3 linked regions of the Homo sapiens genome follow. The protein of the gene in region 2 purifies or fractionates together with the protein of the main gene of each other region. This does not show direct contact. Each region holds a gene or a part of one and is shown on either strand. Other genes may lie near its edges.

The links. Proteins that work in one complex are often made in the same cells at the same time.
Region 1: the proteins of SERPINB11 (region 2) and LMF1 purify together in Homo sapiens (affinity purification with mass spectrometry, with the first as the bait; one large-scale study listed by BioGRID). This does not show direct contact.
Region 3: the proteins of SERPINB11 (region 2) and WDTC1 purify together in Homo sapiens (affinity purification with mass spectrometry; one large-scale study listed by BioGRID and IntAct). This does not show direct contact.

The regions. Positions count from the first base shown.
Region 1 is NC_000016.10:960,847-964,774, forward strand, and holds part of LMF1 (lipase maturation factor 1), read right to left. Parts: intron 1-3,928. UniProt on the Homo sapiens protein: Involved in the maturation of specific proteins in the endoplasmic reticulum. Required for maturation and transport of active lipoprotein lipase (LPL) through the secretory pathway. Each LMF1 molecule chaperones 50 or more molecules of LPL.
Region 2 is NC_000018.10:63,712,856-63,716,783, reverse strand, and holds part of SERPINB11 (serpin B11), read right to left. Parts: intron 750-3,928; coding exon 632-749; intron 1-631. UniProt on the Homo sapiens protein: Has no serine protease inhibitory activity, probably due to variants in the scaffold impairing conformational change.
Region 3 is NC_000001.11:27,293,342-27,297,269, reverse strand, and holds part of WDTC1 (WD and tetratricopeptide repeats protein 1), read right to left. Parts: intron 3,249-3,928; coding exon 3,154-3,248; intron 2,757-3,153; coding exon 2,641-2,756; intron 945-2,640; coding exon 869-944; intron 223-868; coding exon 114-222; intron 1-113. UniProt on the Homo sapiens protein: May function as a substrate receptor for CUL4-DDB1 E3 ubiquitin-protein ligase complex.

The DNA of each region.
Region 1 (3,928 bases), on a different chromosome or scaffold from region 2:
ACCCAGACACAGACTCACGGTGACAACACGGGATCACGACCCAGACAGACTCACGGTGACAGCACGGGATCACGACCCAGACACAGACTCACGGTGACAGCACGGGATCACGACCCAGACACAGACTCACGGTGACAGCACGGGATCACGACCCAGACAGACTCACGGTGACAGCACGGGATCACGACCCAGACACAGACTCACGGTGACAGCACGGGATCACGACCCAGACACAGACTCACGGTGACAGCACGGGATCACGACCCAGACAGACTCACGGTGACAGCACGGGATCACGACCCAGACAGACTCACGGTGACAGCACGGGATCACGACCCAGACACAGACTCACGGTGACAGCACGGGATCACGACCCAGACACAGACTCACGGTGACAGCACGGGATCACGACCCAGACACAGACTCACGGTGACAGCACGGGATCACGACCCAGACAGACTCACGGTGACAGCACGGGATCACGACCCAGACACAGACTCACGGTGACAGCACGGGATCACGACCCAGACACAGACTCACGGTGACAGCACGGGATCACGACCCAGACACAGACTCACGGTGACAGCACGGGATCACGACCCAGACACAGACTCACGGTGACAGCACGGGATCACGACCCAGACACAGACTCACGGTGACAGCACGGGATCACGACCCAGACACAGACTCACGGTGACAGCACGGGATCACGACCCAGACAGACTCACGGTGACAGCACGGGATCACGACCCAGACACAGACTCACGGTGACAGCACGGGATCACGACCCAGACACAGACTCACGGTGACAGCACGGGATCACGACCCAGACACAGACTCACGGTGACAGCACGGGATCACGACCCAGACACAGACTCACGGTGACAGCACGGGATCACGACCCAGACACAGACTCACGGTGACAGCACGGGATCACGACCCAGACACAGACTCACGGTGACAGCACGGGATCACGACCCAGACAGACTCACGGTGACAGCACGGGATCACGACCCAGACACAGACTCACGGTGACAGCACGGGATCACGACCCAGACACAGACTCACGGTGACAGCACGGGATCACGACCCAGACACAGACTCACGGTGACAGCACGGGATCACGACCCAGACACAGACTCACGGTGACAGCACGGGATCACCACCCAGACAGACTCACGGTGACAGCACGGGATCACGACCCAGACACAGACTCACGGTGACAGCACGGGATCACGACCCAGACACAGACTCACGGTGACAGCACGGGATCACGACCCAGACACAGACTCACGGTGACAGCACGGGATCACGACCCAGACACAGACTCACGGTGACAGCACGGGATCACGACCCAGACACAGACTCACGGTGACAGCATGGGATCACGACCCAGACACAGACTCACGGTGACAGCACGGGATCACGACCCAGAGGGAAAATAAATGGGCGTGGGTCCATAGTGACAAAATCAGTGACCACAAACAAGTAAGTAACAAGATCTTCCTCACAGAGGAATTCCACATAATGTCCGCAGACACTCCCTTCAGGAGGCGGGGGCTGGACCCAGTGAGCGGCTTCCAGAGGACAGAGCGGGCGGGAAAGCAGGGACCTGTCAGAGGGCACACCTGGCAGGCAGACCTTGGCCGGGTGATCAGAAAGCCGTGCGGACGTCAGGACCCTGATACGGTGTGACGGGAAGGGCCCCGCACCTCTGTGGGCGTCTTCCCAAAACCCATCACCCAGTCTAATTGCGAGGAAACACCAGACGGACCCAACGTGAGGGACGCTCTACAGACGCCATGACAGGCCTGCTTGACACTGTCAAGGTCGGAATCCTGCACAGGAAAGTCTGGGAGACTCACAGACCAGGGAGGGAGGGAGGAGACGCCAGGACAAAACCGGGTCCCAGAACGGAACAGGCACGGGTGGAAAAGCCATAGAGTCTGCAGTTTCAGTTAATAGTTTTATTTTTAATAAAAAAATTTTAAAAAGTAAAGGTTTCTCGAAGACTCTGCACCACTCAGTGCCCGGCATGAAGCGCTGTGAGCAGCCTCCCTCCAAGGCAGTGGGAGCAGGGCCACAGGCAGAGCACCGCAGGGCCCTGGGCGACGAAAGGGTCAGGGCTGGTGACCTCTAAAGGGGCTGCGACGGCAGGTGGGTGGGGGCAGCTCCAAGTGAGGAGGAAGAGGGTGGACACAGGCGGGCACGGGATGGACACAGGGTAAACAAAGGGCAGACACAGGGCGGGACACAGACTGGACACAAGGCTGGACACAGGGTGGACATGAGGTGGGACACAGAGGGGACTCGGGGTGGGTCGCAGGGCGGGAAACAGGGCTGCAGCAGAAGGCTCCCCACACCCCTACTGCCTCCACCACTGGGTGGAAGGGACCTGAGCTGTGAGCGCTGACCTCCTAGCAACATAGAGGACACCTCGCGGTAGGCCCTCAGCCCCGGCGGCCACACGTGCAGGGACCGCACCAGCAGCTTCCACAGCTCAGGCCAGTGTGTGTGCATATGGGTATGACATGCCCATGTGTCCCTGTGTGTATGTGTCTGTACACATGTGCACATGTATACATGTGCACCTGTGCATGGATGCCCTGTGTCCATGTGTGCACGGGTGTATGCATGTCTCTGTACACGTGTGCACATGTACACATGTATGTGTGCGTGTGCAGGGATGCATGTGTGTATGTCCTGGCATGTATGCAGGTGGGAGAAACACAGGTTGTGACTGTTCAGCCACTGCACACTCCAGGGCCCAGCCTTCATTGGTGCTAGGCTGGGGCCCCTTTCCCACAGGGACCTAATTGGCGCTAGCTGAAGGGTGGATGTGCTCCACCCCTCACCACAACGCAAACTCCAGGACCACAGAGGAAAACAAGATGTGGCCTCACCAAAGCAATAGCCTAAATCAGTAATTCTAAGGCAAGAAGCATAGGATGCTTCCTGCTTATCAGGAAAAAGGAAGACAGACTGAATTGAGATTTCAGAGAGAAAAAAACTATTTCAACCTCTACTCATGTTATAAAAATAGCTACATAAAAAGATGCAGTAAAAATCTTGAAACATCACAGGCTCTCAAAACAAAACTAACCAAGCAGTCAAGCTTCGGAAGGCCCCGTCACTACCCCACACGGGAGGCAGCAGAGCCATGGCGGCCACCCGCCTCTCACAGGGACCCAGAGCCTGACCTGGGAGCTGCAACGAGGAAATACCGAGGAAATACCGTGTCGCCCGAGCAGCCAACAGCAGGCATGGCCGATAAATACTTTGTTTCAGAATCAGAAAGAAATAGCTGGGCGTGGCAGCCTGTGCCCGTAGCCCCAGCTACTCGGGAGGCTGAGGCAGGAGAATCTCTTGAAATCGGAAGGCGGAGGTTGTAGTGAGAGGAGATTGCACCACTGCACTGCAGCCTGGGCGAAAAAGTGAAACTCTGTCTCAAAAAAAAAAAAAAAAAAAGAATCAGAAAAAAAAAATCAGCTTTCTCTTTTCTCCTTTCAGATAAATTGTTGTAAGATTAAAACAGTCATCCCAGAAATGCCGTTCTCTGTTGATGGTTCTTACTGGCCGTGGTTAAATTCTGGGCCTCAGCACAGTGACCTCAAGTATTTTTTCTTTAAGGGATGTGCTGCAGAGCTCCGAAGTAGGGCAGTGCTGTTTGCTTTTTAAACAAGCAAGTATTTTATAGAAGAACTTGTAAAACCAAGTGGTGCATTTCATTAGAACTCAAGTGGCCCGGAGAAAAGAAAAAGAACTCATTTCCCATGAGCTCTTAGAGCCACTGAAAGCTCAGAACAAAACCAACTGAGCAGGGTTTCAAGTATTCTTTTTGGTTTCATTTTCTCCTCAAATTTTCTGAAGAACAGCTGAGAGTTTAGCAAATACGGGTGCAAACGATTCTGCCTGCCACGTCAACCCT
Region 2 (3,928 bases):
GAAAAATGAAAACACACTGAATATTTAACATTAAAGGATTATTTTTAATTTTTCAGAAGTAATGAATTGTAGCGGTTGTATTAAAATTGTCCATATTTTTAGAAAAACAAAGTGAAATATGTGAAGGAAAATGATAGAATATCTAGAATTTGCTGCAATATAATCTTAAAGAAGTGTTGGAGAAAGGGTGAGAGATTACATGAATAAAGCCAGCCATTAGTGAGAAATGTTGCAATTGAGTGATGGATAAATAGGGTTCATTATATATTCTCTTTACCTTTGTATATCCTTAAATTTTTCCTTAACCAAATGTTTCTAAGAAACATTTAAGAAATGTTTAGCAATATATATGGGTTTTTAATTGTGAAAAGTAAATTTAAATTTAATTAATTTTAATTGCAGAATGTGCCACACATTTATGAAACAGAAATGGTGTTCATTCGCAGAGTCACTTTGTATAGCTTCTAGAACAACTGATTGTAAGGGGTATTCCAAAATATGGCCCCATTCCTTTCTTGCTGATCTGCCTATGTCAGGTGCAGACTTCAGCCAGCTTCCTCTTTAGCAAGTGGACTCAGGTTGCTTATCAACACAACACAGAGTTTAGAGACACATATTGACTTATCCTTACCATTAGTTTTATTTTCAACCCAAGCATTAATCGTTTTCCTCGTTTCTTCTGTAGACTGTTCAAAATCCACAGTTTGCAACCTGGCTTGATACCATTTCTCAGAACAGCTTAAATATTGCTATGAAAGACATGATAATTGAACAACAATTCAAAAGCAGTGTAAGGAAAACAAAAATCTACAGCTCAATGTATTCTAAAATTCTAATGCAGAGAAAAAAGCAGTTCCCATAAACAAGTCTGAGAGGAAACAGGATCCATATGTACTTATTTTTAATAAAACAAATAAATTTAACAAAATCTGAAACCCTTCCAAAAGGAATGTTCAGAAATGTTTTGTTGTTACTTCTGTCATATGATTGGCTTTCTTAGTTTTAAAGTGTTCAAAGCAAAATGACAAATTGCAATACATGAGCACCTTCTGACTCTATTCCTACTCTTTCCTCTTCAAAGTAGACATGGAAGTTACTGCTCTCAGATTATAGACAGGAAAACTGAGAAGCAGAGTGGTTAAGTGACTTGCTTTTCTGAGGTCTAACAGAAGGTTGCTCCCATGATATATATCAATCTCCTCACAAGCTGCCATAAATATAATTAATAATAAAAACATTCTGTGATGTAGATAGTTGGCATTTCTGTCAAATTTATGTAAAGTGTGAACAAAAATATCTTAAGAATTTATTATTTCGTTCACCTATAACATATTATCTAAGTGAAAGTGGTGTGCAAACTCAGTATAAAGAACTTACCCTTTCTTTTAACCAAAAATTTTTACTCCGGAGGCCCTCCTGTGTAGCATTCTGGAGCAACAATTTATGACCACCCATGGCCCTAGATTTCTATAGAACTGGAGACTTTCCGTTGTCTTTCTGCCAAGACAACAGTGATATCTACATGGACCCAAATGAGTTTACCATGATGCAATTCCTGAGACCTAAGGAGCATACCTCCACAGCCCAGTGGGACTCAATGCCCCAACATGAACTGAATAGAACAATACAAGACTTTGAAATATGGAAGATGTGCCTAGCGTAGAAGAAAAACAAAGCTTAACTAATGTTGGGGGAAGTCAGGGACCCCGAACGGAGGGACTGACCTGCTGAAGCCGTGACAGAAGAACATAAATTGTGAAGAATTCATGGGCATTTATTAGTTCCTCAAATTAATACTTTTATAATTTCTTACACCTGTCTTTATTGCAATCTCTGAACATAAATTGTGAAGATTTCATGGACATTTATCACTTCCCTAATCAATACTCTTGTGATTTTCTATGCCTGTCTTCTTTAATCTCTTAATCCCATCATCTTCGTAAGCTGAGGATGTATATCACCTCAGGACCCTGTGATGATTGCGTTAACTGCACAAATTGTTCGTAAAGCATGTGTGTTTAAACAATATGAAATCTGGGCAACTTGAAAAAAGAACAGGATAACAGCGATGTTCAGGGAACTAGGGAGATAACCATTAGATCTGGCTGCCTGAGAGCCAGGCAGAACAGAGCCATATTTCTCTTTTCAAAAACAAATAGGAGAAATATCGTTGAATTCTTTTTCTCAGCAAGGAACAGCCCTGAGAAAGAGAATGCGTTCCTAGGGGGAGGTCTCTGAAATGGCTGCTCTGGGAATGCCTGTCTTATACAGTTGTAGATAAGGGATGAAATAAGCCCCGGTCTCCCGTAGCACTCCCAGGCCTATCAGGACGAGGAAATTCCTGACTAGTAAATTTTAGTCAGACCGGTTGTCTGCTCTCAAACCCTGCCTCCTGATAAGATATTATCAATGACAATGCATGCCCGAAACTTCATTAGCAATTTTAATTTTGCCCCGATGCTCTGCCCCCATTTGCCTTGTGATATTTTATTGCCTTGTGAAGCATGTGATCTCTGTGACCCACACCCTATTCGTACACTCCCTCCCCTTTGAAAATCACTAATAAAAAATTGCTGGTTTTGCGGCTTGGGGGGCTTCATGGAACCTGCCGACATGTGATGTCTCTCCCGGGCACCCAGCTTTAAAATTTCTCTCTGTTGTACTCTTTCCCTTTATTTCTCAGACCAGCCGACACATAGGGAAAACAGAAAAGAACCTACATTGAATTATCAGGGCGGGTTCCCCCAATATACTATGAGCAAAATCTGGGCCTCAGAATGAATCTTGTCCTGAGCTGGATCCAATTGTGGTTGAAACAACCTTAAGTAACTCTCCATAGCCCAGGAGATGGACTTTTTCCCAGCCAGAATCCTGAAATAACAAGGTCCCTCTCATGACATAGTTCAAGACAATCTTCATGATGCTAATGAGGACCTTCTCACTTCTGGAACAGATGTCATCATGATCATCCCAAATCCACATTTGTCTACTGTTATATCTGGGTCACTGTTTTGAGAAGGCAAAGTCAAGAGAGCGGGCATACCAGCTCAAAGGACCGTGATTGTTAATCCCTGCCACTCTAGACACTCTCCATACATCGTTCCCTATATGCTTCCAGGGCAGTAAAAGAAAATACTCTCTGAATGTCTATAATACCTACCCCAAGTTGCAAATATTCTGACTATCAGAAGCTCATCACATAGGTTATCCAAGACATAACCTGATCTACCAGGCCAGGGAAGAACATTAGAAACTCATGTTTTCATCCAGCTTCACCCAGATAGCATTTAAATAACCCTGGTCAAACAAAAGCTTGCATTTCACCTCAATCACAAGATGATGTAGCAATTAAAACCAGGAAGACAGATTTGCATAGGGGTTAAATCCAGGTTTTGCCATTTAAATATGTCTGTGACCCTTATCAGCCTGACTTTTCAGAATCTGCTTCACAGTCTGTAGAATTAATGGAAATTTTATACCAATATCTTAGCACAGTGTGAGGATTATAGGAGATAATGCTTGTAATGAGCTAAGCAGAATGACTGGCACAGAGTAAATACTCAATAAAACTACATAGGACCATGGTGTTGGGAAAGGGCATAAATGGTGTTAGAATATTGGAGCTACAAAGAACTAAGCCTAATCCTCTCATTTTAAAGACAGAAGTGACTTGCCCAAAGTTATATATTCTAAATGGAAACAGAACTCCTGTCTCTTGGCTCACAGTCCAATGTAATTTCAACTACTTCTTGATACTCCACTATTAAGAACCTCTGAAAAAGATATGAAAAATTGATTTTGTTTTTCTTCTGGTCCACAGGGATGATTCTTACCTACTTTGTTTTGTGCTTCATCCCTGACCTTGGTTCTTAGACAGCATTAGGGATCTTGAAGAAGTCATTTTTATGTGATATTTGGGAACTTTACA
Region 3 (3,928 bases), on a different chromosome or scaffold from region 2:
TGGGATGCATGAGTGGGTGTGGGTCAGGAGGAAGATTTACAGGTTATGTCCCTCCCTCCAGTCCATATAGTGTAACTGGGGCTTGGAGGGCTGGACAAGCCAGCTGGCCTCACCTGACATGTCCCCTACTCTCCGGCAGCCGGAAGCCATTGCTATGAAGGTGCAGGCCATTGGACACACCGTTGGACACACCGTTGGTGGACATCTTGCCATTCTGGACTTCTGGCAGGAGATAGTGAGAAAGTGACAGCAACAACTCAGGAAGAGGACCCATTTCTTCCTGGCAGCCCTCTAGCTTCCATCACGGGGTCTGATGGTTCCATCGTGGGACTGTTCTCCCAGAGTAAGATCCATTCCCAGAAAGCAAGTTCTGACATAAAGAAAAGCCCGTGCGCCCTCTGCTGGCTGGCGAGGGACACAACTTCACCGTGGCATTACTCAGCTGGGGCTGGGGCTGGGGCTAGGGCTGGGGCTGGGGCTAGGGTTGGGGCTGGGGCTAGGGCTGGGGCTGGGGGTGGGAATGGAGTGAGGAGGTGCCTAAATCAACTGTAGGCCCCAGGAAGAAATCAATGAGAAGACTGGGCCAGGATACAAAGGAGAGGGGAACTATTTCAGGTTCTCAAGAGCCAAGCCATGGAAGGAACCTGTCTTTTCAGAGGGAAGCAAAAAGGGCAGTGATGCAAAGCTCTTGAAGAGATCTCTGCTCTATTGTCATCCTCTTTCTTACTGCATAGGTGGGGTTATTTCAGAGATCTGCTATTTTTGGAGGATCACGGTCCAGAGTAAAGGGCAGGCTTCTCAGCAGGTGTAGCATGCACTTAAGCTCCCCTACACCGCCGCAGTAGAGATACCCTAAGGGAGAACTTACCCCCCGAGGAGTGGCATTTTCTAGGCAAGAGGAAGGTGTACGGCCGCTGCTTGTAAGTCAAGTCAAACAAATAGACCTAGAGTTGAGGGGGGCAAAAAAAGAGATGGAAGCTGTGAGGTAAGGATGTGGTTGAACCAGTAAGCAGGTCTTGGTTTCTCAAGAACTAGAGTCTTGGAACACAGTGAGTGTTGAGCATAGAACAATCAAGCTATCCTAAGAGGTACTTCCAGCAAACCTCAGGCTGGAAAATCTTCCTAGCTCTAGCATTCAGGGTGGGCTATCTGATCTACCCAAAGTCCTGCTTGAAATACTATCATTAATTAGAATCACATTTGGCTGGGCATGGTGGCGTAGCCTGTAATCCTAGCACTTTAGGAGGCTGAGGCAGGAGGGTGGTTGCTTGAGCCCAGGAGTTTGAGACCAGCTTGGGCAACATGGCAAAACCCCGTCTTTACAAGAAATACAAAAACTAGCCAGGTGTGGTGGCGTGTGCCTGTGGTCCCAGCTACTCAGGAGGCTGAGGTGGGGGAATCACTTGAGCCTGGGATGTCGAGGCTGCAGTGACCTGAGATTGTACCACTGCACTCCAGCCTGGGTGACAGAATGAGACCCTGCCTCAAAACAAACAAACAAACAAACAAAATAGAAGGTCAGGTGCAGTGGTTAATGCCTGTAATCCCAGCATTTGGGAGGGTGAGGTGGGCGGATCACCTGAGGTCAGGAGTTCGAGACTAGCCTGACCAACATCGTGAAACCCCATCTCTACTAAAAATACAAAATTAGCCAGGCGTGGCATGTGCCTGTAATCCCAGCTACTTGGAAGGCTGAGGCAGGAGAATTGCTTAAATCCAGGAGGCAGAGCGGAGGTTGCAGTGAGCCGAGATCGCACCATTGCCCTCCAGCCTGGGCAACAAGAGCGAAACTCCAACTCAAAAAAAAAAAACAAAAAACACGTCACATGTTTAAAAAGATGAAGAAGTCCTCAAAGGTCACAAAGCCAAATGTTTACCCTAGCACTACTCCTGAGCTTTTCATGATTCCTTGGACAGGTCCAGGAATGTCTGGCTTATCCTCACCTATTCTGCATCCCGCTTCATTTGTATATATTTGGGCCTTGCCTTGTAATGTCATTAACTGTTTCGTTTGTCATGTCTCCCATCAGCCTGGGGATGGATCATATTTCCCACTTGTCTCTATTATATTTATAATAATGCGAGTCCCAGAGTAAGTGCTCAGTGTTGGTAGAGTAAATAAATGTATGCAAGGCTTACTAAATATCCTGAGAGCACACAAACAGAAGGTTTAGCAACCTGCCATTATCAAAGAACACTTCCCAAAGCTGGCACTAACCCACAGCTTGCTCTGAGCTGCATGCTCTGAGCCCCAGGGATTTCCTCCTAGGAAAATAGCAGACGAGGAAACTGAGGCTCAGAAAAATAAAGAGACTTGCTCAAAGTCACAGTAAACAGCTGCTGAACAGCAGGCCAGCATTTGAACAGAAGTCTGTCCATTCCAAAGCCTATATTCTTAACCAAAATGCCATACTATCATATTTCTATCTAGTTCATTAAGAAAAAATGAAATAAAAAGACTGAGCTAGGACATCTCTCTGGGAACTCCAATGATGCCACATCACCCCCACATTTCAATGTAACATCATTTACCATAAGGCTGTTGTGTCTTGTCTGCCTCAGCAGTGAACATAAGGTACATGCCCCTGGCTGCTGGGCATGGAATGGTGATGGGGCAGAACCACCTTATGCTGTACATACCTGTTCCCCCCCCATGTTGACTAGTAGCTCTGTGCCATTGGGGCTGAAGGTCACATAGGTGGCAACCAGCACTCTCAAACGGTTGTTGTAGTCAGGAAGCTTCACTGGCAGGTGACCTGCAGGGAATAGCCCAGTCATACTAGGGTCCCAGTCCCTTTCAAAGGGGCATGAGATTGTGTGAAGTCAGTCATATCAAAAATTATACCAATCAACTTTAGCATAAAAGCAGCTACAAGTGTTGAGCCCTTACTATATGCACTGGGCTAGTTGCTTTATATATTTTATCTCATTTAGTCATTATAACCCCATTTTACTTAACCTTGATGAGTTTCTTTTCTGTAATTTGCTGAAGGTGACATAGCTTGTCAATGGCAGAGTTGGGATTAAAACTCAGGTCTGTCTGACTCTAAAACCCTTGCTCTTGACCACCATGCCATGCTGTCTCCCTGGACTGCCCCCAAAAGAGTCAGCATCTAGCCGAGAGTTTGGGGCCAGAGCTGTGCTGAGCGCTACCTGCTACGTAATACTGGGCTGCACCGTCCGGAAGGGGTTTCTGCCGGTCACAGAAGGTGTGCACACCCGCTGAAGGGCTCTGCTTCATGCTCTTTCTGGTGGGAAGGAAAATCATATAGGTTAAAGTTACAGCACTGCCCCTGGCTAGACCAGACCACACTCACTAGACGAAAACTTACATTTGTATCTGAGACATACAGGAGGTATTTTTCCTCCTTACCTAAGCAACCCCAAAGGCCCACCAACTAGACAATTACAGACATATACATTACAGTGCTTTACCAGGTAGGTCCTATAAGCTGTCTGGGTCTTCATGACCATCTTATTTTTCCCATTTTACAAACAAGCAAGCTAAGGTTCAAGACCCGCTCCAAGCCATGCAGTGTGTGAGGGGCAGCAGTGGTCACCAAGCCCATGAATGAAAATAAACAGGCGACATTCCTGCATCCATCCCAAGAATCATGGAAAGCCCAGGCTGGAGAGGCAACTCAGGTCTGAGAGTGCTGTGGGGGTTCTGAGTGTTATAAGAACTAGCAGGAAATATTATATACAGTGATTTCTTTAAGAAAGACACTATAAGAGATTTATATAAGAAATTATAAGAATAAATAAATATAAGGAAATCATAAGGAATTTATGTAAGAGATTATGGGTAATTTATACTTTTTTTTTTTTTTTTTTAATTGAGACTGAGTCTCACTCTGCCACCCAGGCTGGAGTGCAGTGGCAGGATCTCTGCTCACTGCAAGCTCCGCCTCCCAGGTTGACGCCATTC